Linked DNA regions of Homo sapiens: region 1 is linked to region 2. Evidence: fine-mapped expression QTL. A gene starts in region 2. The other region holds a variant in brackets. All regions are shown on one strand. Distances are between the middles of the regions. Region 1 holds the start of CHROMR (cholesterol induced regulator of metabolism RNA). Region 2 holds the start of PJVK (pejvakin).

What was found. PIP is the estimated chance that this variant, and not a neighbour inherited with it, causes the effect.
Region 1: its variant is fine-mapped to the expression of PJVK in whole blood (TOPMed, PIP 0.97).

The regions. Positions count from the first base shown.
Region 1 is chr2:178,411,083-178,428,046 of GRCh38, forward strand. CHROMR (cholesterol induced regulator of metabolism RNA) reads left to right here and starts at 2,577. Exons shown (of 5, transcript NR_110204.1): 1 at 2,577-3,031; 2 at 15,284-15,579. RefSeq lists enhancers at 2,341-2,916, 2,746-2,945, 3,447-3,706, 3,494-4,068. The variant CTCTT/C (reference allele first, on the strand shown) is at 8,481.
Region 2 is chr2:178,443,884-178,455,783 of GRCh38, forward strand. It overlaps PJVK (pejvakin), which reads left to right and starts at 7,495. Exons shown (of 7, transcript NM_001042702.5): 1 at 7,495-7,886; 2 at 9,505-9,737; 3 at 10,449-10,644. The coding sequence starts at 9,527. PRKRA (protein activator of interferon induced protein kinase EIF2AK2) reads right to left here and starts at 7,292. Exons shown (of 8, transcript NM_003690.5): 1 at 7,083-7,292; 2 at 6,359-6,528; 3 at 3,622-3,703; 4 at 539-617. The coding sequence starts at 7,147. It also overlaps the pseudogene NUDCP2. RefSeq lists an enhancer at 6,448-7,022 and a silencer at 6,785-7,564.

The DNA.
Region 1 (16,964 bases), 30 kb before region 2:
GTGGTATATACATAAAATGGAATATTATTCAGCCTTAAAAATGAAATAAATTCTGATGCATATACAACATGGATGAACCTTGAGGATATTATACTAAATGAAATAAGTCAGGTACAAAAAGACAAATAGTGTATGATTCCACTTATATGAGGTACCCAAAGTAGTTAAATTCATAGAAATAGAAAGTATAATAGAAAAGTGGTTTCCAGGAGATGGGAGGAGTAGAAAATGGGACATTAGTATTTAAAAGGTACATACACAGTTGCAATTTTGCAAGAGAAAGAGTTCTGGAGATTGGGTGCACAACAAAGTGAATGTACTTGACACTACTGAACTGTGCACCTAAAAATAGGATGGTATTTTTTTTTTTTTTTTTCGAGATGGAGTCTCACTCTGTCGCCCAGGCTGGAGTGCAACGGAGTAATATCAGCTCACTGCAACCTCCGCCTCCCGGGTTCTAGCCATTCTCCTGCCTCAGCCTCCTGAGTAGCTGGGACTATAGGTGAGCACCACCATGCCCAGCTAATTTTTGTATTTTTAGTAGAGATGGGGTTTCACCATGTTGGTCAGGCTGGTCTCGAACTCCTGACCTCATGATCTGCCCCCACCTTGGCCTCCTAAATTGCTGGGATTACAGGCATGAGCCACCATGCCCAGCCTAGGATGGTAAATTTTATGTTATGTGTACTTTACCACAAGTAAAATTTTTAAATAAAAAAATGACATCTATATCCATGTTGTACCATTGTTAATTTCCTTGTTTTGATATTGCACTATATTTATGTAAGATGTAACCACTGAAGGACTTGGTGAAAGGTACAGGGACATCTCCATACTACCTTTGCAACTTCCCGTGAATCTTTAATTAGTTTAGAGCAAAAAGTGTTAATTTCATGTTTGTGTTAAAAAAAAAAAAAAGGAAGTTATAGACTGCCAATCTCTTGGACCAGGATAATAGAACTTTATGAACACAGAGATTAAAGCCTATTTAACCACAGTTTGCCCATGATGGTAACTTTGATCAGAAAGAATCTCACAAGCTGGGACCCAACAGGACCAAGTAATCCATGTCATGATTATTACACGTTATCAGCCTTCCAGGGAAGTGGAATTTACAAGCTTTCCCTTTGGCATGGGGCCCAGGTGATGGCCTCCTATTGAGCAGAGTCCCCAGCAATAATTACCCTGCATGTCAAAGGCCTCATTTCCCCAAAACAGTAAACCATAAAATGTAGCCCATATTCTCTCCATGTATATCACTCAATATCACACCGTAGAGGCATATAACTGATAATATTGCCTCTGGCCCATGCCAAATTGCAAGTGGTAGATTTTTTTTTTCCTTCCGAATTAAGAAACACAAGATTTACCCCTTTTCTTGGAAAAGTGTTAAGAGTCTAGCACCCCCAATAACTAGGGTCTACAAATGTCTAAAAGTTATTAATCTTGGTCTGTCTTAACTACCAATTCTCTTAATTTGGGTAACCTCAATTTTGTTGTTGTTTTTTTTTTTTTGAGACAGAGTCTCGCGCTGTCGCCCAGGCTGGAGTGCAGTGGCGCCATCTGGGCTCACTGCAATCCCCGCCTCCCGGGTTCAAGCAATTCTCCTGCCTCAGCCTCCCTAGTAGCTGGGATTACATGTGTGCACCATCACACCCAGCTAGTTTTTGTATTTTTATTAGAGACGGGGTTTCATCATGTTGGCCAGGCTGGTCTCGAACTCCTAACCTCAGGTGATCCACCTGCCTCTGCTTCCCAAAGTGCTGAGATTACAGGCGTGAGACACTGCACCTGGCCTGGGTGACCTCAAATTTTTAAATGAAGGGATTGGAGGTAACATCTAGGATTTTATCTAGTTCTGTCTTCTATGATTCAAACCCCAAATTCTCCACTGCAATGACTGCTTCTGGAATAAATATTCCTGGTTGCCTGTCTCTGAAAAAAAGCTCTCACATAAGGCTAATGAGAGGCGAAACTAAGGCAGGATCTCTCCTTTCAAGACCACATAGTCAGGGTTGTTTAATAAGCACACAAAGTAGAGACATATTTACCCATTCACCATGAAAAAACACCCCTATAAAAGGCCCAATACCTGGGCTTAATAGCTTCATTTCTTGTGTGATCTTGCAGTGTACATCAAAAAATTAACAAATAACATCCAGTGACATGATCTTGGCTCACTACAACCTCCGCCTCCCGGGTTCAAGCGATTCTCCTGTCTCAGCCTCCCTAGTAGCTGGGATTACAGGCATGCACCACCACACCCGGCTAATTTTGTATTTTTAGTGGAGATGGGGTTTCTTTCTCCATATTGGTCAGGATGGTCTCTCTCGAACTACCGACCTCAGGTGATCAGCCCGCCTTACGCCTCCCAAAGTGCTGGGATTACAGGCGTGAGCCACCGCCCCTGGCTCCCCCACCGGCAATTTCTAAAATGTATCGGTCTCCTCCCAAGCCCTTGTTCCTTCATCCCCCACCCGGGGCAGATTCAGACAAGCATTTATTTTAGTTCCTAAGCCGCGCGGTGCTCCCAGCTTCCGCGCCTCTGGGCGGCCCACACCCCTCCCCATCCTCTCCTCCGCGCCGCCGTCTTCGTTGCTCTTGGGTGGCCGCGGCGCCCGCTCCCTCTGAATTCGCCGGGCAGGGATACAGCCGCCCGGGGCCTCTTGCTCGTGCTTGGTTTTCCGGACCTTGCTTCCTAAAGGGTCTTTAGGGGTTCCCGGACTCCTCCGCCTGGGAGCCTCTATCCGCCTGGGAGCCTCTATGCGCCCCGCAAAGCCCCCGGCAGAGCCGAGGGGAGGCTTCATTGGCGACCTGGTGGGGCCTCGCGGCCCTGCTCCCTGACGTCAGCGCCGCCGCGGTGATTTAACAGCTTTTGTTTTGGGCAGAAGAACCTATGGGCACAAAAAGCAGGAACGAGTAGCGGTGGCTGAAGAACGAGCAGGAGCTTGAATTTCAGTTTTCTTATGAGGAATTTTCCAGAAAAGATATCTTCACTGTGAAATAACTAAATAAATGCCCACTCAGTACAGTAAGTATTGATATCGTCCTATAGCATTTGGCTAGAAAGTGGTGTCAATAGGGTTTTTCCTTCAGACTTTGCAATACTGTTCAGAAGGGCCAATGCCAATCCTTCTGTGAGGAAGTTTTTTTCTTCCTAAATATGTTAATTGCCTCAACTTGGACTAACGGTCACACTTGTGAATATGAGTGTAAGAAACAGTTTATTTCTCACATGTATGAAAAGGAAATTTTCTTTCATCTATCTCAGGCCCCTATTCAGCGTAAAATCAAGATTATTTAACTTGCAAGATTAAACAACGACCTTATTTCAAATGAAATAAAATTCAGTCTGATCAGAAACCCCTTGGAGCAGTTTATATTAACCTAATTATCTTTTTACTGCAGTAAGTTAATTGAGGATTATGGAATGCATCTAAAAAGCAGTTATATTTACAGGTCCCAAAATTAAATGCTAAGGAAAAGCATTTCTGCAAACCCAGGTAGTACGGACAAACCGAAGGGAGTTTTATTCTGTCAAGTTTTACTCTAAATTCAATCGTTGATCAGCTAGATCTCGGCTTGGTTATTCTTGGAGGAGCTGCCTTGCAAATGATTCCACTCTGAGCTCGCCGGCCACAGTAGCGTGAAATGGATGGCAGTCAGTTTCCTCTTCCTAAGACTGGGTGTGGTTTCTCTGGGCAGACTACACAGTGGCGACTCTGGCGGGATTTGAGGAGCCTGGAGAGGCCCACCACGTGTGTGTCTCCCCCTAGTGACCAACGGGCTGAAGTTCCTGTGGTTAAAGGCAATTGCTGATTTTGTCATTAGCAGGAAGGTGAAGCTCAACGACCTCCTGCGTGTACAGCACCATTCTAGAAGCTGGATGTGTTTAAAGATATGATGCAATATGTACCCAGAAGGCATAAGACTAGATCACTAGGGTACAAATTAAAATATCAAGTTGCATACGCTGAGTATGGGATTAGGTCAGCGGAACACGCTTTGGAAAACACTGCTTTAACGACCTCATTCTGAGTCCCTGTAATGCTTAAGATTATAGCACAGTTTAGGCACCTTATATACATTATGATGGAATGCTTTCCTAGAGTGATATTCTGTGGTGGAAAGAGCAAATCAAAGGTCTTTGTGTTCTCTGTGACCGTGGAAGAAATTGCCATTAAGTAGTAATATAAATAGGGGTTTTAAAAAACGTGGGAAAAGTCTGAAGAAGCATTTGCAGAAACTCCTTACAAAGTCAGTGACAGCTAGGCCAGGCCAAGGTGGGCGGATCACTTAAGGCCAGGAGTTTGAGACCAGCCTGGCCAACATGGCAAAACCCTGTCTCTACTAAAAATACAAAAATTAGCTGAGCGTGGGTGGCTGAGATGGGAGAATTGCTTGAACCCAGGAGGCAGAGGTTGCAGTGAGCTGAGATCGCACCACTGCACTCCAGTCTAGGCAACAGTGCAAGACTCTGTCTCCAAGAAAAAAAGGAAAAAAAGACATGTACTGTAAATGTAAAATATAAAATATAGGCTGGATTTCAGAGACATAGTATGTAAAAAAGAATGTAAAATATCTTAATAATTTTTATATTTATTACATGTTAAAATGATAATGTTTTTGACATATTAGGTTAAATAGAATATAATTCAATCAGTTTCTTTTCTCAAAGAGTGTGGCTACTAGAAATGTTTAAATTATGTATATGGTTTGCATTATATTTTTTCAGACAGTGCCGATGTAATAGTAACAAAAAGTCTCAGCCTCATTTAAGATAAAAGGCCATCATCAGACAATGCAGGACAGATTGTAACAATAGGAAGTACTACAGAGATTCAGAGAATGCCATAAATAACCTTGGAATCCTGTGCTTGGGTAAAACATTTGCTTTTTACTTAGCTGATCCCTTAAAGCCTGTTAAGTTGAAATGTTACAGAGGGAATTTTATATTAGAGTTGGCCACCTCAATTTCATAACTTTTTAAGGAGAAAATGGCTTACATTTGTGCATCTTCAAGGTTTTCAAAGCATTTGCACATTTATTATCTCATTTCATCTTTCTAACCTGAGAGGAAGGTAGAGCAGTTTATCCCCATTTTACTGGTAAGGAAACTGAGGCTCAAAGAGTTCATGTGATGTGAAGAATATTGGAATTAAGGATGCCAGAGAACAATGACTCAGAGTGACCAAGTCATTATGGGGTCCATTTGGAGGTCTCTATGTAGAGGGAGAGCTTCCTCAGGGACTCCTGCAGACATCTCCTTATTGGAGGACAGGAGGAAGCTTGAAGACACTTTTCCCCACTCGGACTCAGTACTGAGTACTTTTCCACTCTAAGTCCTTCACCTTCTCCTCATCCCAGGCCCTGGGTCCATAAAACTGCAGGAGCCTTTTGTTCAAGGGTTCTCTCAGCAAAGCTGTGCTGATCCACCTGACCCTGGATTGGTGCCATTCTATCACAGCATGGGATTAAAGCCTTGACCCTTCCTTTCATATTGGCTTATTGTCTTCACTGCTTTTCTGACTTCTGGCACCTCAACTCTCTGGAACTAAGCTCGGCCCTTGACAGTTAGACCTGCTGTCTCTTCCCACTCTGACTTCCCTCTTGTCTCCCATCCCAATACTCTTCCTTGCTCTGGCTAGGCACAACCCCCGACTTTAAAGTTTTGGAGTGATCACGGGCATTTCTGGGATTTGGCCAAGGGATAAATTGAGTTGAGACTACATTGAGTTTGGGTTTAATGGGATATATGTATGTGGTTTGTAGTCACATCCATGTATAGTTAAGTAATGGTCATACCACTACTGGAATGGTTTCTAGGAATACTCCTACTAGTGACTATGCGGGTTCACATACACCCTACATATAAAAGCAGGGCCAGAGGTCACACTATGATATGAATGTGACCTATTGCTTGGCATCAGAAATATGCGGGTAGTGGAGAAGAAACAGATTGAAATGAACTGTGGTAGATCCATTGCAAGAATGTCTCCAATACTTCCCTGTAGGCAGACCCTTTGCAATGTGATTTTTTTTAACTCTACCCGTGAAAAGTTGGGCCCACCTCTTGAATCTGGGCGGGTTTCGTGACTTGCAATGCTGTGGAAAGAGTCATACTTGAAGAATAGGGGTGCTTTAGTCTCTAGGAAGGCGCTACTTTAAACCCATGCTAACAAAGCTTTTAAAATACCCCTCCTATAAGAATCAATGTGATCCATCACTAAATTAACTGTCTGTGAGAAAAAAACTCAATACTCTTTAAAGGAAGACAACAAAATCTTGATTCACAGCAATGTAGAATCTGTAATGTCCAGCATATAATCTATCAAAATATAAGAGAATCAGAAAAGCAGGAAAACGTGACACATATTCAGAATATATATTGCTGGACAGTGCTGATCACCTGTGTTTTCCAACACTGGAGGACTTGTGGAATCTTGACTCAGCTTGTCACTCATCAGTGGTAACTGTTCTCTGCTGGCCCTCACAGAGTCTTACTCTGCACATGCACAGCTTTGTATTTGGCTAAAGACTTCAGGGGAATCCCTATGCAGGATTCTGTAGTTCCTTCTCTACACCACTCCTTATCCTCAGGTACTCTACCCTACTTACTCTAGGCAATTCAGCATCCCTGAGGTCTCTCTGGACTTCACTTTTCCATTCTGCAGTCCAAAATGGGCTCTTGAGCAGAAATCTAGGGCCACCAGGGGGATCATCTCATGTGTTTCCCCTCTCTCAGGTTAGCAATCTGTGCTGTTGTCTAAGATTCTTTGCTTGGCCCCAAACTTTAATCAGGCTCCTGAGCCTTCTACTAAGCCCATCTGTGCACTTCCATGTAAAAGCCAGTTGTAGCAAGAACGCTGCTTAGTTGGGTTAGCAAGAATCCCCACCTTTGATATCTGATCACCCTTGATATCTGATTGGGTTCCTCAGCCTCTACCATCCCACAGGTGACATCTGATTAATCTGGTCTGACTTCGCAAGAATCCTGTTAGATTGGTTGGTTTAGGCAGAATTCCCCTTACCCTTGATGTTTCCTCTTAGTAATTGTCTATCCACTGCCACTACCTTGCCCCTTGGCTATAAATTCCCTCTTGCCCATGCTATATTCATAGCTGAACCTAACCTCTCTCCCCTACTGCAGAATCCCATTGTAACGGTCCCTATACCTTTTGAGATAGTCCTAAAATCTGCCTTATTGTGCTTTAACAAGTATCATTTAAAAATTTTTTTTTTTTTTTTTTCAGGAGACAGGGTCTTGCTCTGTCACCAGGCTGGAGTGCAGTGGCACAATCATAGCTCACTGCAGCCTCAAACTCCTGGGCTCAAGTGATTCTCCCACCTTAGCCTCCCAAGTAGCCAGGACTACAGGAGGGTACCATCAAACCCAGCTAATATTTTAAATTATTTTTATTTTTATAGAGATGCGGATCTCACTATTTGCCCAGACTGATCTCAAACTCCTGATTTCAAGCAATCCTCCTGCCCCAATCTCCTACAGTGCTGGGATTACAGGAGTGAGTCACTGTACCTTGCCTCATTGAGTAATTTTTTTCTTTATCATATACAATGTCTGAAAGGAGCTGCCTTCTGTCTTTTGTCCAGTTTTAAAGTTGTTTACAGTGAAAGGAGGGCTAGCCCACACATGTTATTATATCATGTTTGGAAGCAGAAGTCAGTTACCCTTAAATTAGAGATGAGGAAACTGAGGAACTGAAAGGTTAAGCAACTTGCCCCAAATCACACAGCCGTTTACCTGTGATGGAGCTTGAATTCAAACCCAGGCAGTCTGTCTTTAGAGATGCTCACTTAATTATTGTTCTGTACAGCTTCTTAGAAAAATGGCTTTATATATGTATGTAAAATGTTTTGTCCAGTGTAGGTAACATAGTCAATCCTTAATAAAGTCTAGCTAAATTATTCTTTAAAATCCTAAAGCTCAGTATGAATTTGTTCCTAGCCCAGTGTTTCAAAGCAAAAGTCCCATCATGTGAGTTGATCTTTATTAACACTAATTTTTATTACTGTCCTACTATTAACAAATAAAAACAAAGCATTTGCTTAAGTCCTTTATTAAGTGCATGAACAAAATATTAAATCCTTAGCCTGCTTTCTTTTGCCATTAAAACTACCTTTCTTAACTAGAAATATGAGATAAAATGAATAAAATAAACCAAGCAATCAGGCACAGGTACTGTCAGTTTCTGAATTTCAAATAAATCCTGTGCAGTAACACACCCATCTGGCCATAACGGAGATTGCACTAGAATGAAAGCACAAGCTCATAAATAAGAATGTAAATATTTGTAATAGAACCCAGCATTTACTATACTATCTAATTCTTAATCTGCCATCTAAATGTGCTCCAATTGTTCATCTTATTTTAAAAAATTATGACTGGAGACATCTGTAAGTCCAAGCCTTTCTTTGGTTTTAGCTCATATACTTGAAAACAGTTTGCCTCTGTCTTCTGC[CTCTT/C]TTTTTTGGTGAGATATATGTAAATATTTTTCAAACCTCTACTGTATCTATTAGCACAGAATGCTATAAACATGTGGCAGCTATCCATTCACTCAGATCAGCATAGAAAGAAAAACTAGTTTATTCAGGTCTTCTCTCCACGATGTCCCACTCTTGCCCCAGCCCAAGCAGTGAAGCAAAAAAAACCCACATATTCCAATCCATCTACTTCACCCTCTCTAATATTCAAATTGACTGAATAGCTATCAGATCTTCATTACACACTGTTCTCTGCAGATGGCCTTTTTGATAAGTCTTAATCTAAAAAAATTATTGAGGGAAATGAGGAAATCAGAAAATGATAAATTAAGTACAAGAAATTTAAGACTTAGCTTATTGTTATCGTCTCCTTTTTGATATCAGCTGTATTTGTGGCAGAAAGCCATCATGATCTGCTATCTCAATATACTGTCAAGCTGGTAATTCTGAATATGTTGTCAAGCTTGTAAATGTTCTGAGTAGACCACATCTTCAGTAATTTCCACAAGTTTACAATTTTTCAGGTAAAGCTATAATTTATTGCCTTAAATTCATTTTTTCAATGTAGTAAGAGCTGCTGCTTAGTTATAATACTCTGAAACTTCCACGAAACTATCCTTTTTAGAACTCATATTACAATATGGGCTGTTTCATGTTTTTTAACTTCTTTGGACCTTGAGATGCAGTGTTATTCTAGATGCAGCATTACTCACAGTGGACATTGTCCTCAAATTAGCATAATTTCTATTTCATTTCCTACATACTGTTTTGGATAATGTTGAAAGAAATCTTTTGAAAATGCAAATATTTTTTGTCGCGGCACATACACACACTCTCTACAGAAACCTTGTCTTAGTTTGTTTAGTGTTGCTTTAAAGGAATACCTGAGACTGGGTAATTTATAAAGAAAAAAATTATTTGGCTCCTGATTTTAGATGGCTGGAAAGTTCAAGATTGGGCTTCTGCATCTGGTGAGGGCCTTAGGCTGCTTCCACTCATGGCAAAGGTAAAGGGAAACTGGTGTGTGCAGAGATCACATGCAAGAGAGGAAGCAGGGCTGGGGAAGAGGAAGCAGGGGTGGGGAAGAGGTGCCAGGTTCTTTTTAACAACCAGCTCTTTTGGGATTTAATAGCGTGAGAACTCACTCATCCTTAAGGGAAGGCATAAATCTATTCATATGGGATCCACCCCCATGATCCAAACACCTTCCATTGGACCCCATCTTCCAACACCACCACACTGGGAATCAAATTTCAACATGAGATTTGCAGGAGAAGGGACAAACAAACCATATCCAAACCATAGCAACCCTGCCAAAAATAAAAAGCAAAGAAAAAACTGGCTACAAACTCATAATTTATCCTCTCTCTAGAAATTCTAATAAAAGGCAAAAGATATATGATCTGAAGAGAATCCAGAGTATCTCCAATGCTGACTTGTAATTTTATATATCTTAAATTATGTGATTTATATGATATTCTTATCATCTTTTTTCACTAAACTATAACTCCATATCTCAGGTGGGACTCTCAGGGAGCAGACTCAGGAGACAGTAGGCAGAAGGTTTATTAGGGAATGCTTTTGTGATCATCATCCGTGGAAGGAATGGAAAGAAATCAGGATTGGGTGGAAGGAGGACTTGGGTTGTGATACAGTGTCAACAGTGTTCTCAGCTGACCCCATGGGAAACTCTAAAGCTGGTTGGCCCTTTTGATGTCCCATATTGGAGCAAGAAGGTCAGGACTTTGTTGCCCAGTCACTGGATGCAAGGAACCCAAAGATGGGGGTGACCTTGGATGCAGTGACACTCTCAGCTGGTCTCAGTGACTTACCTGGTGATAAAACTCAGTCCTTGATCCTTAGAGGCTCAGAGTCCCCGGTCCCTATAATCTTTTTAGGCTCATAATGGCTGCTACACTGTCCGTTTACAATCAGAATTGGGCAAGAGCATACCAAGAGGTGCATACGTGCAGTGCTTGGTTACCAACATTTTCCTCCTTCCTCCAACTGTAACCGTGGTCCTACCTCCTCTTTATGATAAGATCCATTATCCCTGCCAGGATGTGACTCCTCTTTTTGCCTGCTACTTTCTTGGTACAAGGAACCTGAAGTACCTAGCCCGCAGATGTAGCTTATAATTCAATGAAACTGATGAGTCTCTTCTTGGGTCTCACTGAACTATAAACTACATCTGCTGGTGGAGGTGTTTCACCTTTAGGAAGCAGGACCTCTAAATGACAGGACCCAGTGTTGTGGAGCCAGGAAGCACAATTTCCCCCAAGAGAATCACTGGGAATGATAGAAAGCAGGGCCATTCCTGCTTCTACCTCTTGATTCCTGGACCCATGTATTCTACCTGTTAAGAACACAGCCCTACATAAAGACCATTAAAGTGTCCACTTCATCTTAAAGGATGGTGTTCGTGTTAGGTATGCCTTCAACAAGTTAATTATTCATTCTATCAGGGTAGAGGCTTCTGGGTGATGCAGCATGTAATAATAAGACAAGCAGAGGCTGTGGTCGTTTGCCCACTCTTTCCTCCTTTGCTATAAAACAGGTCCCATGAGGTAGTTCAAACTCTCTGAAAGCCCTCAGTGATGCTGGCCAATGCCCTGCAGATAGAAAAGGAGAATCATTTAGAATATGTGTCTATTCCTGTCAAAATGAGTCACTGCGTCTTGTTAGGATCATTATTGTAAGTCAGCTTGCCACCAAGTGACTGATTGGTCTTCTTGAGGAATAGGCACTCAGCATTGCAGCATTGGTCTCTGTTGTTAGCAGGCTGAAAATTCAGCAGTGAATATAACTAGATCAGCCTCAGTGTATAGGAGCGCATCCTGTTAGGTCTGTTACATAGCCTCCAATCCTGCCACAGTAGTTATTCCAATGCCAGATGCTGGATGTTATTAACCAGCCAAGTCCTGATACTGACTTGGTTGTTCAGGGCCTTTTCCATTATGGATACTTTGTAGTATAGATCAAACGCAGTACAAAGCTCCTAACGCTTTGTGCCCACTCTCATGTGCCCAATCCACCATTTTTATCTCAAAATCTCTTTGTTCCCAGTAGTTTAGTCTATTTTCAGGACCCTGATCCCATGACCAAGCCAGTTGCCACTACCCATGTATATTCTAACCTTGAGACCCTTTCTACACAAATGGACAGCAAAGTATACTGCCCGAAGGTCTGCCCTTTGGGAGGATTTTCCCTTACCATTGACTTTCAGGGCCACCCCTGAGTGGCACAGTACTATAGACACCATCTATTTTGTTTGCCAAAATATACCCATTTGTGAGTCAAATTCATGCATTTTCCTCTTTCATCAGCTCGTCATATGGGATCAGTGACAATAAATGTAAGCCAAGGGAGAGACACTGGTGCAACAGTGGTAGAGACATGGGAGTCTAGGCTGCTTGCTAATGTAACATACTGTGCCCTTTGCCTATGTTTGTGTTCTACATGTATAGAACCCAGCTCATGATCATTGTTCTTGGCTTCATGGCTACTTGACATCCCTTTGTCTGGTGCTATATCTCTATAAAAGCCCAGCAGCACATCAGCAGCTGTTTGTTGAAAGGTGTTTACTTCTCTGCTACAGATAGCATGGCCAGACTCTTGGGTCTGCATTGTGATTTTCCCATTAGGACTTATCATAAACTCCACACAGAATCTTTTCCTATATATCTAATACAACAGCATCTGCTGGGTGGTATGGCAAAGTGGTAAAACTGCCACCTGGACCTGCTTCAGAGCCCTTTTCTGCTCTGGGTCCCACTTGAAATTGGAAGCCTTTTATGTCATCCAGTGTATAGGTAACAGCAAGTATTTCCTGCTATGGCATATGCTGCCTCTAGAACCCATAGAAACCTATCATTCTTTTATGCTACCTTCTTTATGGTGAGAGGTACAAAATGCAATAATTTGTTGCTTATTTTGGAAGGCATATCTTGGCATGCCCTGGACTGTGGACCCACTAGAGAGCCACCAGTAGAAGTTCCTTGAATCTTTGTAGGGTTTGTCTCTCACCTTCGGAGTATATGTGCGGTAGCTCCAATATATTATCTACTTCTTGCTCTTCTGGTCCAGTTAACATGGTATAATTGATATAGTGAATCAGTGATGTTCTGCAAGATGCCCAGCTGGTCTTGGTCCTTCAGACTATATTATGATAAAAGCTGGAAGAGTTAACATGCTTCTAAGAAGATTATACATGTTCACTATTGTCTGATCCAAGGTAATGTGTTTCTGATCCTCTTTTCTAATATAGAAAGGATGCATTTGTCAGATCAACAGCTGCATATTGTATACGTGGTGCCATGTTGTGATTTCTACTTTTTTGAATCTGTTGAGACTTGTTTGAAATATGGTCTGTTCTGGATAATGAGAAAAGAATGTGTCTTCTGGGCTGGGCATGGTGGCTCACGCCTATAATCTCAGCACTTTGGGAGGCTGAGGTGCGTGGATCACCTGAGGTCGGGAGTTCGAGACCAGCCTGACCAACATGGAGAAACCCCATCTCTACTAAAAATACAAAAATTAACTGGGCATGGGGGTGCATGCCTGTAATCCCAGCTACTTGGGAGGCTGAGGCAGGAGAATTGCTTGAACTCGGGAGACAGAGGTTGCGGTGAGCCAAGATCACACCATTGCACTCTGTAGCTGTTGGGTGAAATATTCTGTAAATGTCAGTTAGGCCTATTTGATCTAGTATGTAGTTTAACTCCAAAGTTTCTTTGTGGATTTTCTGTCTGGATGATTTATCTGTTACTGAGAATGGGGTGTTGAAGTCCCCTAATATTACTGTATTGCAGTTTATCTCTCCCTTTAGATCTATTAATGTTTGCTTTGTATAATTGAGTGCTCCAGTGTTGGGTGCGTAGATATATAAATTATTATATCCTCTTGCTGAATTCACTCTTTTGTCATTATATAGTGACCTTCTTTGTCTCTTTTTATAGTCTTTGACTTGTAGTCCATTTTATCTGATGTGAGTATAGTTATTCTTGATCTTTTTTGATTTCTACTTGCATAGATTTTTTTTTCCATCCCTTCACTTTCCGTCTATGTGTGTCATTACAGGGGAGGTAAGTTTCTTGTTAGCAGCATATAGTTAAGGGCTTGTTTCTTTATCAGTTCAGCCTTTTAATTGGAGAATTGAGTCCCCTTACATTCAGTGTTATTATTGACAAGTAAGGACTTACTACTGTCATTTTGTGCTTGTTTTCTAATTGTTGTTTTATAATTCCTCTCTTCCTTTCTTATTGTCTTCCTTTGTGGTTAAGTGATTTTCTCTGGAGTATGTTTTAATTTGTTGCTTTTCATTTTTAGTGTGTCTATTATAGGTTTTTACATTGTGGTTACCATGAGGCTTACATAAAACATAGATATACCAAGTCATCTTAAAGAGATGACAACTTATCTTAGATTAAAAAAAAAAAAAAAGAAAAGAAAAAACTAAAAAAAAAAGCCTTTATACCTTAACTCCATCCCTTCTACATTTTGACTTTTGTTTGTCTCAATTTACATATTTTTATATTGCTTATCTCTTAACAGGTTGCTGTAGCTGTTATTGTTTTTGGTAGGTTTGTCTTTTGGTCTTCATACTAGAGTTATAAGTGGATTACACACCACAATTTCAGTATTGAAGTATTTGGGGATTGTCTTTGTACTTAATTTCATCAGTGGGTTTTATACCTTCAAATGTTTTTGTTTTTGCACATTGGTGTTTTTTTTTTTTTTCTTGTGGATTGAAGAACTCCCTTTAGCATTTCTTTTAAGATGGGCCTCATGGTGGTGAATTCTCTCAGCTTTTGTTTATCTGGGAAAGACTTTATCTTGCTTTGATGGTTGAAGGATAGCTTTGCTGGATACAGTATTCTTGTGTGGCAGACATTTTTTTCTTTCAACACTGAAAATTTCATCCCATTTGCTCCTGGCCTGTATGGTTTCTGTTGAGAAGTCTGTTGCCAGATGAATTGGAATTTATGTTATTTGCTTCTTTTCTCTTGCTGCTTTTAGGACCCTTTCTTTGTCCTTGCCCTTTGAGAGTTCGACTATGCCTACGGGTAGTCTTATCTGGGTCGAATCTGTTTAGTGTTCTCTGACCTGCATACCTGGATATTTATATCTTTCTTAAGTTTTGGGAAAAAAATTTTATTATTTCTTTGAATAAGCTTTCTACCCCTTGCTGTTGCTCAACTTTTTCTTGAACACTAGTTATTCTTCGATTTGGTCTTTTGAGATAATTTTCTATATCTTGTAAGTGATCTTCATTCTTTTTCATTCTTTTTTCTTTTCTCCCCCTCACTGTGTAATTTCAAATGGCCTGTCTTTGAGCTCACTGACTTTTTCTTCTCCTTGATCCATTCTGTGGTTCATCTAATTTTTTTTTAGTTCAGCAAATATATTTCTCAGTAATGAGAATTTTGCTTTTTTAAAATTATTTTAATCTGTTAAATTTCTCTGATAAACTTATAGATTGCTTGTCTGTGTTATCTTGGGGGTTACTGAGTTTCCTTAAAACTGCTATTTTGAATTCTTGGTCAGAGAGCTCACATATCACCATTTTCTTAGATTCAGACACTTGTTCCTTGCTTTATTCATTTGGGGAGGTCATGGTTCCCTATTGCTGTTGTTTTTCTTGTGGATGTACGTCCATATCTTTGCATTGAAGGATTATTTATTCCAGTCTTCTCTGTCTTGATTGTTTTGTTTTCTGTCGGGGATGTTTGCTTAGAGATTCTTTGTGACTTATCTGTTAAATTTCTTATTTTCCCACTAGGTCACTGTCTCCCTTTTGGAACTTGATGGCACCTTAAGCCCAGGTTTGCCTCCACTCTAGAAACTCATCAGAGTGATGCCCTTCTCAAATGGGGGAGGTCCCAAAGCGGATATCCTGGCAGTGTGAAAGGCCGGCTAAAGGTTTGTGCCAAGAGGATCTGTGGAATGCATCTCCTACAGCTGGTGCTGCTGAGTAACCACTCTGATCTGGCATCTTCTTTGATCAAGTTACAGAGCAGAGTTTCCAGGGCTGGGGATTGAAGTCCTGCCTCCTCCCTTTGTCTCTGGTTGTCCTCGGTAATGTTTTTCCCTCAAGGTACTCATGATACTTCCCATGGGGTGAGTCAGGGACAGGTCTCTTTCCAGGGAATCCAGGATGGTAGGGAGGTTGGTTGTCTACCTTGATCTCACTTTTTCCATTGTAGAAACTGTGAGTTGGGGAAAGTTTTCCACACACTTGGTGCTGGACAGATTGTGGCAAGGGGCACCACAGATATAAAAATCTGATTCTTTTACCATGCTCAGAGTTTTTTCACTTCTGTGTCCCCAGGAATTGACTCATCCTCATATCTGAGTTCTGGGATATTGTTGGTGATAATCTCAGTGCTGTATATTTGTTTTTGGTTTTCTGGTGTGGAAGTGAAGCCAGCTTGCGTCTACACTGCCATTTTTGAACTAGAAGTCCACCTGATGCCATGTGGGTCTGCTCTAACAAAGATGCCTGTAGCTGTCTCTGTAGGTACAATTGGAGCTACTACCTCATAAAGTTTGTGGTAGCCCACTATCTGGTTTTTGGAGGGGCTAGACTGGTAAATTAAATGGAGATACAATTTGAACCATCATCCCCGAATCTTTTAGGTCTTTTAGGATGGCATTAATTTCTGCCATTCCCTGAAATATTATTTTTTGATTTACTGTATTGGTATGGAGAAGAGGTCAATTTTTAAAGCTTCCACCTGGCCACTTGGCCTTTATCACTATGTTAGCTCTTACCACACACACCGAGAAACCTGGTGCCACTAATCAAGTGTATTTATCACAATTATACACTCAAGGACTAGGTGGGTCTGTGGATATATTGTGAGCCAGACTTGGGCCAGGACACCCTAGGACTTGGCCTCCATAACCCTTACTCTAATCAAGGGCATATAGTGAGAGTTCTGTGATATCATTGTTAACTCAGACCCTGTTTCCAACAGATATCAAAATGTTGAGTATTCCCCTTTCACCACTGTATGATTTCCTGAGTAATGGTGATAGGTCCCTTTGGAGAAGGACTAGAGGAATCATTATTGTGCACACTTGTGGTATTACACAATCCTTCCTCCTGGGGACCCAGATTCTTCTTTAGTTAATGGGCCTGGATCCAAAAACGGACTCAGGTCTGGAAATCGGACAAGGGGTCATGATTATTTTTTATTTTTATTTATTTATTTATTTATTTATTTTTGAGACAGAGTCTCCCTCTTTAGCCCAGGCTGGAGTGCAGTGGCACAATCTCTACTCATGGCAACCTCCATCTCCTGGGTTCAAGCAATTCTTTTGCCTCAGCCTCCCGAGTAACTGGATTACAGGCGCGCACCACCTTGCCCGGCTAATGTTTGTATTTTTAGTAGAGACAGGGTTTCACCATGTTGGCCAGGCTGGTCTTGAACTACTGGCCTCAGGGAATCCACCCTCCT
Region 2 (11,900 bases):
ACTGGCTGAATAATGGGGAGGGAAATGGCCTAACAGAGCACATGGATAATCTGCAAGAAGGATATTCTGCATATAGAAATTCAAAGCTGAATATATGTGTGTGTGTTTGTGTGTGTATAGATAAAATTTTTTTTTTTTGGTAGAATAAGCAAATAGACTCCTTTTCTTCAGTTAGGTTCACTGATTTGATTTAGGCTCTCTATAAAGTCTTCTGTCTCAACAGAAGTAGAAAGAGATTTGTCACAAGAGTAGCAAGAACTATTCTTAAAGTATAAAACACTTTACCCATGTGCACTGAGGGCCTGTTGATCTTAAATGAGAATTCTATAAGCCAAAGGCAAATACTGTATATGAAAGAAAACCCAGAACATAAATAGGAAAATAATTTCAAGTTAGCTCTGTTAATCTAATGATCGTAAGTTGGAAAACAAAATATATCACTATCTTGTCTTTAAAATATTAATTCCTTGTGTTAGCCCCTCTGACATTACAAACTTATTATATATTTCATCAGTAGGCAAAGAACTGTACAACTTACCTGTAATGAACCAATAGGATTAAGCTGGTTCTTTGGTTGCTTGGAAGGGTCAGGCATTAAGGGGTCAGGAACTGCAAAGCTAAATATTTTTTAAAAGTGTTATAAAACAAAATAATTTCCCCCGAATTATGAAATAAATGACAAGCATTTTCTAATTAACTCTCTATGTCTTTGCTCTTGTCATTCCTTCTACATGGAATGCCCTTTTCTCAGACCTCTTCTATGGGAATCTGATCGGTCATCCAAGATATATCTCAAATGTCACTTCCTCCAAGAAGCCTATCCTTTTACCCCAGTGGTTTATAATCTCTCCCTTCTTTGAAACATTATAACACATGGTTTAATCCTTTCTTGAAATTGTTTTACCATAAATTATATACTCTTACAAATACATATAATTTGTCCATCCTTCACCACACCTCTCCCCTGTTCAGACAGTAAGCTCCTTGAGGTAGGGCCTATGTATCACTTACCTACATAAGCTTTGTGGTGTTTTGTACATAATAGGCATGCCATAAAAATGTATTTAAAGAATACTCTGTTACAACTATACAAAAAACAGAAGAGTAACAATGATCCAGAAAATTTAGCCTGGCAATGTGAATAATACAGATTATGTGTAAATACTGTTTTTTCATCCACAGAACTATGAAGAGAGATCTGTTTGATCTATCATCTGCTCAGTGCTGGGATAATCCTCTAAGATTTACATGTATCCTGCAGAAAATAGATGGCTTAGATGAATTTGGTTTTAGCAAGTGGGGATTATGATTAGGGAAAAAGAGAACAACCTCTTCTAGGGAGTCTGGAATTACTAGTTACTTAGCAGGTCAGTACTTAAAACTGAATAAGCGGCATTTCAAGGTTAGTACCACCTAGGCAACTGGAGTCATTTTTCCATGACAAATGAGGTTTAGTTATTGCCACTTCCTCAAGGTTTTTTTTTTCCAACTGTGAGAATTTCAAGCTTTACATAGGCTGATGAGATATGAGTATTCACTTACAATGCTGCATGCCGAAGCTACCCAAATAATTGTGATGGAGAAGTGAGAAAGTCTCTGTATTAAGTCAGGCCACTTTAGGCCTGATTACAGCTTAGTAATTCCCATTTTATCTGTCAAGAAGCACAAATATAGTAAAGTTTGTTAGCTTTTTTTGCTGACAAAGTGCCAAGATGCAGAAAGGACACTCCATACCCCTCATTTCTACAAATGTACTTAATGGTTGGGTTCACCTTCAGGCTATACAGAAACAGCATGGCCATCACCAGTGGGGGAGAACCCAATACCTGCCATGTCATTTGGCATGTCTTTTTTTTGTTTGTTTGGAGACAGAGTCTTGCTCTGTCGCCCAGGCTGGAGTGCAATGGCGCGATCCCAGCTCACTGCAACCACTGCCTACTGGGTCCAAGGAATTCTCGTGTCTCAGCCTCCCAAGCAGCTGGGATTACAGGAGCGTGCCACCACACTCGGCTAATTTTTTGTATTTTTAGTAGAGACGAGGTTTCACCATGTTGGCCAGGCTGGTCTCGAACTCCTGACTCAAGTGATCTGCCCACCTTGGCCTCCCAAAGTGCTGGGATTACAGGTGTGAGCCACCATGCCTGGCCTTGTTTTTCTTTGAGGCAGGGTTTCACAGGCTGGAGTGCAGGGGCACAATCTTAGCTTACTGCAATCTCCGCCTCCCGGGTTCAAGCGATTTTTGTGCCTCAGCCACCCAAGTAGCTGGGATTACAGGCGCCTGCCACCATGCCTGGCTAATTTTTGTATTTTTAGTAGAGACAGGGTTTTGCCATGTTGGCCAGGCTGGTCTTGAACTCCTGGCCTCAAGTGATCCACCCACCTCAGCCTCCCAAAGTGCTGGGATTACAGGCGTGAGCCACCCCGCCCAGCCTGGCATAGATCAATTATAATGCATGACCCTAGAGAATCAAGCATCATCTTGTGAAATGCAAGGCTTGTCTTGGGCAGCTGCTTATCTAGAGGGTTGCCATGTCACTGGTTAGTTCTAAACTACCCAAACGGTTTAGAATGATTTACAAAAAGAGAGGAATACTACATGAGAACCTAACTACACCCCTAATCCAAAAGCCTTTCTATGACTAGGGAACAAAAAACCCATCCCAAATTCCCTGGGTCTCTACTGTCAACTATAAGCTGATTACACAGATCGTACTTCAGGCATATGTAAGTGTATGCACAAGAAGAACTTGAAAGCATGCCAAGCTCCAGAGTGCACCCAGTGGACACTACTTTAATATGTGAGATGCTCCAGGACCAATATTCTATCTAGAAACACCTAAAGTAGTAAAAAATCTATCCCAGCACTTTGGGAGGCCGAGGCTGGCGGATCACGAGGTCAGGAGATCGAGACCATCCCGGCTAAAACGGTGAAACCCCGTCTCTACTAAAAATACAAAAAATTAGCTGGGCGTAGTGGCGGGCGCCTGTAGTCCCAGCTACTTGGGAGGCTGAGGCAGGAGAATGGCGTGAACCCGGGAGGCGGAGCTTGCAGTGAGCCGAGATCCCGCCACTGCACTCCAGACTGGGCGACAGAGCGAGACTCCGTCTCAAAAAAAAAAAAAAAAAAAAAAAAATCTTACTTTAGAAAGATATGTCAAGAATTAATATCCCACTTAACATTCTCTTCTTTTGGTATACATTATATAATAAAAGAAAACCTCTGCCTGCTTCTTCAAAATTAGAATTCCCAAAAGAGTACTTTTAGTGGATCTTTCTCCATCTCACACTTTGTTTTCTTCAATGTAGAAATAATCAAAGTCTAAATACAAAATGTTAATATTAATATTTGCAAGAAGCACTGATTTTCTACTGTTGTATCCCATTAAAAAAAAAAAAACAGTAAAGCCTAGTTCATGAGCACCTTCATTTAATAGCTAATTGCTGGATTTGATTGGATAAAGTTTTCTTTAATGGATGATAAGTTTTCATAAGGAAATAGAATTTGAGAGGTAGGATGCTAACAACTGTTCACTTTGTTGCTTTTGTAAGCATGTTCAAATTTTTAATCTTACCTCAGCCATGATATTTTTGAGCTGCTGAATACAAAGAAATTTAGCTCACCAAATACTTGCATTGGCTTTCAAAATGTTTATGGCAGCCTCTGCAGCTCTATGTTTCGCCAGCTTCTTACTTGTACCTTCACCTGAATTAAGATTTAAAAAAAGAAGTCTTTATCTCCCACAAAAATGTGCAGCTTACAAAGATGTTTTCAATACACAAAACAAAGTCACTATAGATTTTACATACACATACTAGGTAATAAAAATATGTACGTTATATACTGTACATAAAAATATGTACATGTTATATACTACATGGTTATATACTGTAATAAAATATTCACCATGTGAAAAAATTTTAAAAAATAACTTTTTAAAGTTCTATATAATTCTATGCATACCTGCATAAAAATCCTTATTTCTACATTATATATGTTTATTATATAACATGGTAATAAAGTAGACCGTGTCACACCTCTGAAGAAATGCAGATTAGTATTTTACTCTTCCTTTATTCCTGGAGGGGAAATTCTTCTGCAGCAAGAAGTTTCTTTTAAAGGAACCATTTACAGCAGAATTGTTTGATAGCAAAATGTGCATAATTTTATTCTGACAGCCTGTCCTATAACGTATCAAACTGCTTTGCTAGGCTGAGCAGTCATGATTATGTGTTGGGTACAACAGGAAAGAGTTTTATGGAATAAGGTGACAGCTTGTTATGTATCTTCTGGACGGTCTGTATCTTCTGCATGGGTAGCTAAGTTGGGACTGGGGATAAGACTGATGTCTAATTTCAGTAAGCAATCACAATGGCAAATGATAAATTCCATCTTTTTCCTTTTAAGTTCAAACTCCCATACCCTCATGGAATAAGTTTCAAGTGTGGCCTTCAAGTGTGGCCCTCAAGTGTAAGAAGACACAGAAACCATATATTTATCTGCTAACACAGGTATTAGGGATATAGCATACAGGGTCCCTGCCCTCAAGAGCCAACAGAGTAGTGTGGGATTTTTGTCTGTTAATAGGCACCTGAAGTATGGAATGGGATATGTTACAACAAGCCTAAGTGCAGGCTGTAGCGGAGGTTGCAGTGAGCCAAGATCATGCCACTGCACTCTAGCCTGGGTGACAGAGTGAGACCCTGTCTCAAAAAAAAAAGAATGAACACTGGTTGTAATGTGACAAAAGGACATCACAAGACTAGAAGGTAAACGTGTAGCTACAAGACTGCAGCTACAATCCAAGTGAGAGATGATGGTGGCCTAGGCAGTAGCAATGGCCAGAAGAGAGAAGCCGACAGATTCAATGGATAGTTAGTGGATTATTAAACGCCAATGGATAGAGTTTAATAACAGACTGGACAAGAGGGAGAAAGACGGGAAGTAGTTAGGAAGACAAAAGCCTACATTTCTACTGAACTAGGTGATTGTGGAGCCTTTACATAGAAAGGGAATGCAAGAAGAATGGGTTTGAGGGAAAAGATGGATTCAGTTTGGGACAATGAGAGGCTTGAGGGGCCTCTGTGTCATCCAGGCAAAGATGCTCAGCAAGCACAGACTGATACACTATTCTGTAACTGGGCTTGGGATGTAGACAGACATTTCAGAATATTAGTCTTTAGACAGTATCAGAAGCCATGGAGGCAGATAAGCTTGCACAGGAAGCCATGGTAGTGTGAGAAGAGGGCGTAGGCAGAACGGTTGCCATAGGTTGTTAATTTGGGGTCTAAAACACATTGAGAGGGAAAAACCCTCCCTTTTCTTGAATTCTTCCTATCTAGAAATAGACTAGCTAAAGTAAGTAATGCAGTGTTGACTCTATGGTTCCCATGGGGACCCTTCCGGCCAGCACCTACAATCTAACTGCCTCACACAAAAAGTTTTAAACTTTTCTTAAAGTGGCATCAATTAAAATAAAAGACTCCAAACTTCCAGGGACACAAACAAATGCTGTCTTCAGATTTTCCAGATGGTAGAACTTGAGCCTTCCTACTAAATTTTTTTCTTGGCATTCTTCCAAATTAAATTTAGCATCCAATGTTTTCTGTGTTTGCAATTAAATAGATACATAAGAAAAATAATGTCCACATTTACAAATGAGCAACTTTAGTTATCATTTGCTCAAGCTCACAGACCAAAAGAAAGCATGAACTTTAAAATTTCATTGCTTTGTGACTTCATTGCTATACGCATGTTACTTATAATCTCTCTGAACCTGTTTCTTCTTGTTTAAAAAGTGGATAATATACAAAATATCTGTTCAGTTTCAAAAACTAGAAGTTATTATGTAATATATGAGGACCTTCTCCCCTTCCTCATTTTGTTTGGATACAGAATCAAAAGTAGCACAATGGACCTAAAGTGCCAAATGAGTCCATACAGAGAGGAGAGACGCTCAGAAAATTCTGGGGTCATGCCTCCTGGCATCCGCTATAATCTATGAAACTTCACAGTACCTACTGACCCAGCTATGACTGCTCCAAGAACCTTTCCTGCTTCCCTCTAATTCTAAGAAGAACCCTAGGAGGATCCTAGGGTATGAGAAGAGCCATGCAGGATCCAGCCATCCGGCTGGGTAACTTTTTAGTTTCTAAGCTTCCTTGGTATGTGGGGAAGAGAAAATTAGGAAGAGAATCAGATGCAGCTGAAAAGCCCTAACGACCTGAGATGAGAGGTCTCAGTTTCAGAGCCTGTTCCTCACAGCTGTCTGGCAAAAAGAGAACTTTTCCGAACTGAAAAGCAACACCAAGTATTGACTGCCAACCCACTCGGTCATCCAGGTTAACTGTGTATACAGACCTGTGCAGGTTATGTCACCAACGGTTACTCTGAAGGTGAAAGTGGGCACGTGTATTTGCACATCAGATCTTTCACATTCATAAACTGGGATGTTCTTGGTCTTCATGCCGTATTCGTGTAATACCTGAATCGGTGTTTTCCCTGGCTTAGCTGTTATCATCTTCCCCAAACTGCAAAAACCACAAAAAGGTGTGCTTTGCATGCCAAATTGGAGATTGAAGCAGAAGCGTAGAGGCCAGTTTTAACCGCCACCGACGGTGACGAGGGAGGCGCCGAGTTCCCCGGAGGCCAGGGCCAGAGCTGGCGAGGCTGGGGCGCACCTGTCTTCCGGCCCCGCTGCGGCAGTCACTCCGCAGGAGCAGGCGGGGTGAGCGAGGTCTTTAGAGAGAGCACTTGAATGCGGGTAGGAGAGATTCTCAACAGAACAGGGCTGGCAGCAGCGCCGCAGCCTCTCAGGGAAAACCTGACGATCCCTTCCCGGGCGCGCCGACCGAGCGTCACCTCCGCCCGCCCCGCGCGCCGCCAGGGACCACGAGAGGGGCGGGGCCCGGCCGCAGACCCCAACCCTCGCCGCCGAGAGGGCGGGGCCGAGCACCCACAGCCGCGGAGGCGTGGGCGCCGGGCACGGCTTTACCCAGAATGCCTCTGGAGGGCCGGCTCCCCGCGCCCCGGCCCTGCCGCCCAACGCTCCCGGCCCTGGGGCCCTGACTGCCCGCACGCTGACCTGAAGGTCCCACTGTCCTCGCGCTCCAGCGGCGGGGCCTCGGCGCGGTGCCTGCTCTGGGACATGGCGAGAAGGGACGGCTCAGCGGCTGGAGGAAGAGCGGTGCGGAGCGACGTGCTCGCTCCCCGGGTCGCTGGTCCCCGGGAGGAGCTCCAGCGCCGCCACCTCCTCCGACTCCCCCGCCTCCTGCTTGCGTTGCTCCAGCGAGGGGGCAGGCAGGGTGGGGGCGGAGCCTTGGTGCCGTAGCTCCGGCTACGCCCCCTCGCTGCTCCTCTGCGGGCCTCCGTCCCGGCCCAACTCCGCCCCTGTCCCTTCCAGGGTCCGCCCCCTTCCCGCCCGGCTCCGCCCCGCTCCCGCGTGGGCACAGGCATTGGGCTCCCGGGGGTTCTCCGCGCCCGCCCCTGCCGGCCCTGACCAGCCTGTAGTAACTGGCCCCTAGGCCGCAGTTCTTTGTCCTTAGCAGGAGGCCGTTTCTTGCCGGGAGAGAGGGATTAGAGGGATTGTCCGGCGTGGGTCTAGGGTCGTTGAGGCCTAAAGTTAAGCCTTTGTGGGGAGGACGGATTGGGGGCTGGGTCACTTTAAGAAAAAGATTCTAAAATTACGAAGGCAGAATTCCAGGGAGTCTCCCGGGCCTGGTCCTGAAGCTTGAGACCCCGGATATATACGCTCCAGGGGGCTGCGGTGCGCTCTTCGGGTCCCCGAGCCCTGTGTTTAGGAACACGCGGGGACGTCCAAACACCCGCTCCTCTCCCGCCGGGCGGGCTCCTTTGTCTTCTGGGCTTTCGTCGCGAGATGGAACGCTGGGTCAGTGCATCCCAGCAAAACACGTTAGGAGTAAACGAAGGCCTTTCCGGGGACCTGGGTAGTCGGTTGTAATGGCGTTTGCCTGGGATGCAGCACCTTTGGTGGGCCATTAGATGACGTGTCGCTTCTCCAGGGGCTTGCTAGGCACTAGCAGAAATGCTCCCCTGTGCTTACTCGGTGTTATGGAAGATTGCTTGCACAATGCTATTCGTACGAAAGGATATTATTAAAAGTGATTTATGGGCGGGCGCGGTGGCTCACGCCTGTAATCCCAGCACTTTAGGAGGCCGAGGCTGGCGGATCGCCTGAAGTAAGCAGTTCGAGACCAGCCTGGCCAACATGGTGAAACCCTGTCTCTACTAAAAATACAAAAATTAGCCGGGCGTGGTGGCATGCGCCTGTAATCCCAGCTACTCGGGAGGCTAAAGCAGGAGAATCGCTTGAACCCGGGAGGCAAATGTTGCAGTGAGCCGAGATCGCGCCACTGCACTCCAGCCTGGGCGACAGAGTCAGACTCCCTCTCAAAAAAAAAAAAAAAAAAAAAAGCGATTTGTTGTTTTGTTAGCATGTAAGCCCTGGATGCTTGAAACAAGTGAAAGATGTTCAGAATCTAATCAAATTATATCATCTGATGCTTTAATTAGAGCCTATTCTCTCTTCCTCTCCGTCTATATATGTATGTATATAGATTACTATCCATCACTGTTTTAATGGATATCTTATTGGAAGGGCTACATAGTCAGTATTTCACAATATATGAACTCCGCATAACACCTATGGCAAAACATTTCAGCACTCAGGTAAAATTCATTTTTTGCCACAAAATTACTTAAAAACAGGCCAGAACTTTATATAGCTCTTGTTAAAGGTTAAGTAGCTGGGATAATAATGAAACAAAAAGATGCAGCAGGACTCCATTTCAAAGAGAGAGAGTCTGTGTGCCCAACTTCAGAGTAAGAAACCACTAGGTAATAGTTTATATAGTTACTTATATGTAATGTGGCTTTATTTTTTAAATAAAGATTTGCATATAATTGTTTATATCTGTGAATTTATATTTAATATTAAACACAGTTTTGTAAGCATATAAGATGGAAAATGAATGAAATGCTCAATCAATGAGCTGTATGCCATGAGGATTCAAAACAGCACTTTGGTGTTGCCAAAATTCCGGTGGTGGACTTGTGAAGGAATTCCCTTTGGACTAGGTCCACTGTAGATTGTATCCGGGACTATCGTTAGTGCCTAAATTGCATTGCTTCCCACAGCACTATATGCTTCCCTTAAAATTGGCCCATTGCCAGTGGCAAATCACTATCTACTGTGATCCTTATCATAGACATTGGTCATATTTTTACGTTATTAGTTTTCTGTGTATATTTTAGTGCTATAGCCTGCCATTCCAAGTTAAACATGCTCTTAGCATATCATTTTACACCGTTGATCTATAATTCATTACCTGAGCACATGAGCAGAGGCAGGGAATTATACAGTGGTAAACTACTTGGTGAAACCATGCTTTGTATTTTTAAGATGTATAATTATATTTAAAAACAAGCAATGCTTAATTTTGTGCCTGATTTTCCTCTTTAAAAATGGATTTATCTGGGGGTTGCAGTTGATGACGTTTTGATTTTAATATGTTTGCTGCTGCTACCAAGAGCTTTGTCAAGCAAGTTGGAGATGGAGGGAGATTAGTTCCTGTTCCAAGCCTCAGTGAAGCTGACAAATATCAACCTCTAAGTCTGGTGGTAAAAAAGAAGCGATGCTTTCTGTTTCCTAGATATAAATTTACTTCAACACCTTTTACACTGAAAGATATTCTCCTAGGAGACAGAGAAATTTCAGCTGGTAAGTTTAAATGTTTGGGAGTGCCAACTCATTCATCTGTATTATTGGCAACCTAAACATAGGTCATATATGCTACTTATGTTAGTAATACACATTTTCAATGATTAAAGCAACTTTTATTATGATGTTAGTGTAATAACATTATTAAGATTAACAATGCCAAAAGTTTGTATAATATCAAATCTCTTATTGGTCAAATAATTTTCAAATCTATCAATTATTTTATAAATTGTTTTAACCAAATCAACTTAGAATATGACATATTTCTTCATCTATAAAATGGGATATTATTTGGGCTTACCTATGTTACATGGTCAAATGAGATGAAAATAATTTGTATTTATTTTTTACAATTCAATTATTACAATTGGTAAACTGAAATGTATTGAAGGGTAGGTTATATAATAAGCTGATATTTTGATGAGTTACTACTTATAAACGCTTATTTTTTCTTTTAATTGCCCGGTGGATCTTGATGCTTAAGAAGTTCTGTTGGCTGAATAGAAAATTTGAGTTCCTTTTAAGAATTCTGGCTATGTGTTTCTTTTTGTTGTAAGATTAATTGAATTACTACTTTAAGTCTTGGTGAGTCATGTTGCCTTTCTCTAACATTTGGGTATTTGAGTCTTCAATTGTTAATTTAACATGTTACTATATATAATCTACATAAGATAAAGATGTTTAAAAAATACTGAGTTTCTTCTTATAAAGGTATTTCATCTTATCAATTACTGAATTATGAAGATGAATCAGATGTTTCACTCTATGGAAGGCGAGGTAACCATATTGTAAATGACGTTGGGATTAACGTTGCTGGATCAGATTCCATTGCAGTGAAAGCTTCATTTGGTATAGTAACCAAACATGAAGTGGAAGTATCAACATTACTCAAAGAAATTACTACACGGTCAGTATAATAATCCTAATATATTTCAGTGTTTTCATTAAATACTTTAGGTATATAAACTTCATTACAAAGAATGCTTAAAACATTGAGGTTGTATTTTACTAGTGTAATTTGCTAGATATGTTTGAAATACATTGGTAGTATATCCAAACTTTGAATAAGGATAGATATCAAAAATCACTTGGCTGAAGTCAGAGACCTCAGGGCCCCAGATCAAGGAGCTAACTGATGAAGAGGCAGAGAGGCTGCAGCTAGAGATTGACCAGAAATAGGATGCAGAGAATCATGAGGCCCAGATCAAGAATGGCAGCCTTGACTCCCCAGGGAAGCAGAAGACTGAGGAAGATGAGGAGGAGGAAGATGAGAAGGACAAAGGAAAACTGAAGCCCAACCTAGGCAACAGGGCAGACCTGCCTGATTACCGCTGGACCAAGACCCTGTCGGAGCTGGACCTGGCGGTCCCTTTCTGTGTGGACTTCCAGCTGAAAGGGAAGGACGTGGTGGTGGCATCCAACGGCGGCACCTCCAGGTGGGGCTCAAGGGGCAGCCAGCGATCATCGATGGGGAGCTCTACAACGAAGTGAAGGCGGAGGAGAGCTCGTGGCTCATTGAGGACGGCAAGGTGGTGACTGTGCATCTGGAGAAGATCAAGAAGATGGAGTGGTGGAGCCGCTTGGTGTCCAGTGACCCTGAGATCAATACCAAGAAGATTAACCCTGAGAATTCCAAGCTGTCAGACCTGGACAGTGAGACTCACATCATGGTGGAAAAGACAATCTATGACCAGTAACAGAAGTCCATGGGGCTGCCAACCTCAGACGAACAGAAGAAACAGGAGATTCTGAAGAAGTTCATGGATCAGCATCCGGAGATGGATTTTTCCAAGGCTAAATTCAACTAGCCCCTGTTTTTCCCTCCCTGAACTCTTGGGGCTGAGCTGCAACCACCCAACTTTCTTTCCCACTCTTCTCTGGGACTTGTGGGCCTCAGGGCTTGGGGCAGGCATGGGACTGGCCCAGGCACACAGGTCCCAGGGCATCAGGAGAAAGGCTGGGGCTTGGGGTCTTGTCCTCCCCAGTTGGCCTACTGTTACACATTAAAATGATTTGCCCAGCTAAAAAAAAAAAAAAACCACTTGGCTTAAACAAAACTTTTAATTGTTCCACAAAATTACTTTGGCTCTACACACATTTGCTTAATTATTAGATTTAAATAATACAGCAATCTGTCTGCAACAAATAGAGTCCCCTTCAACA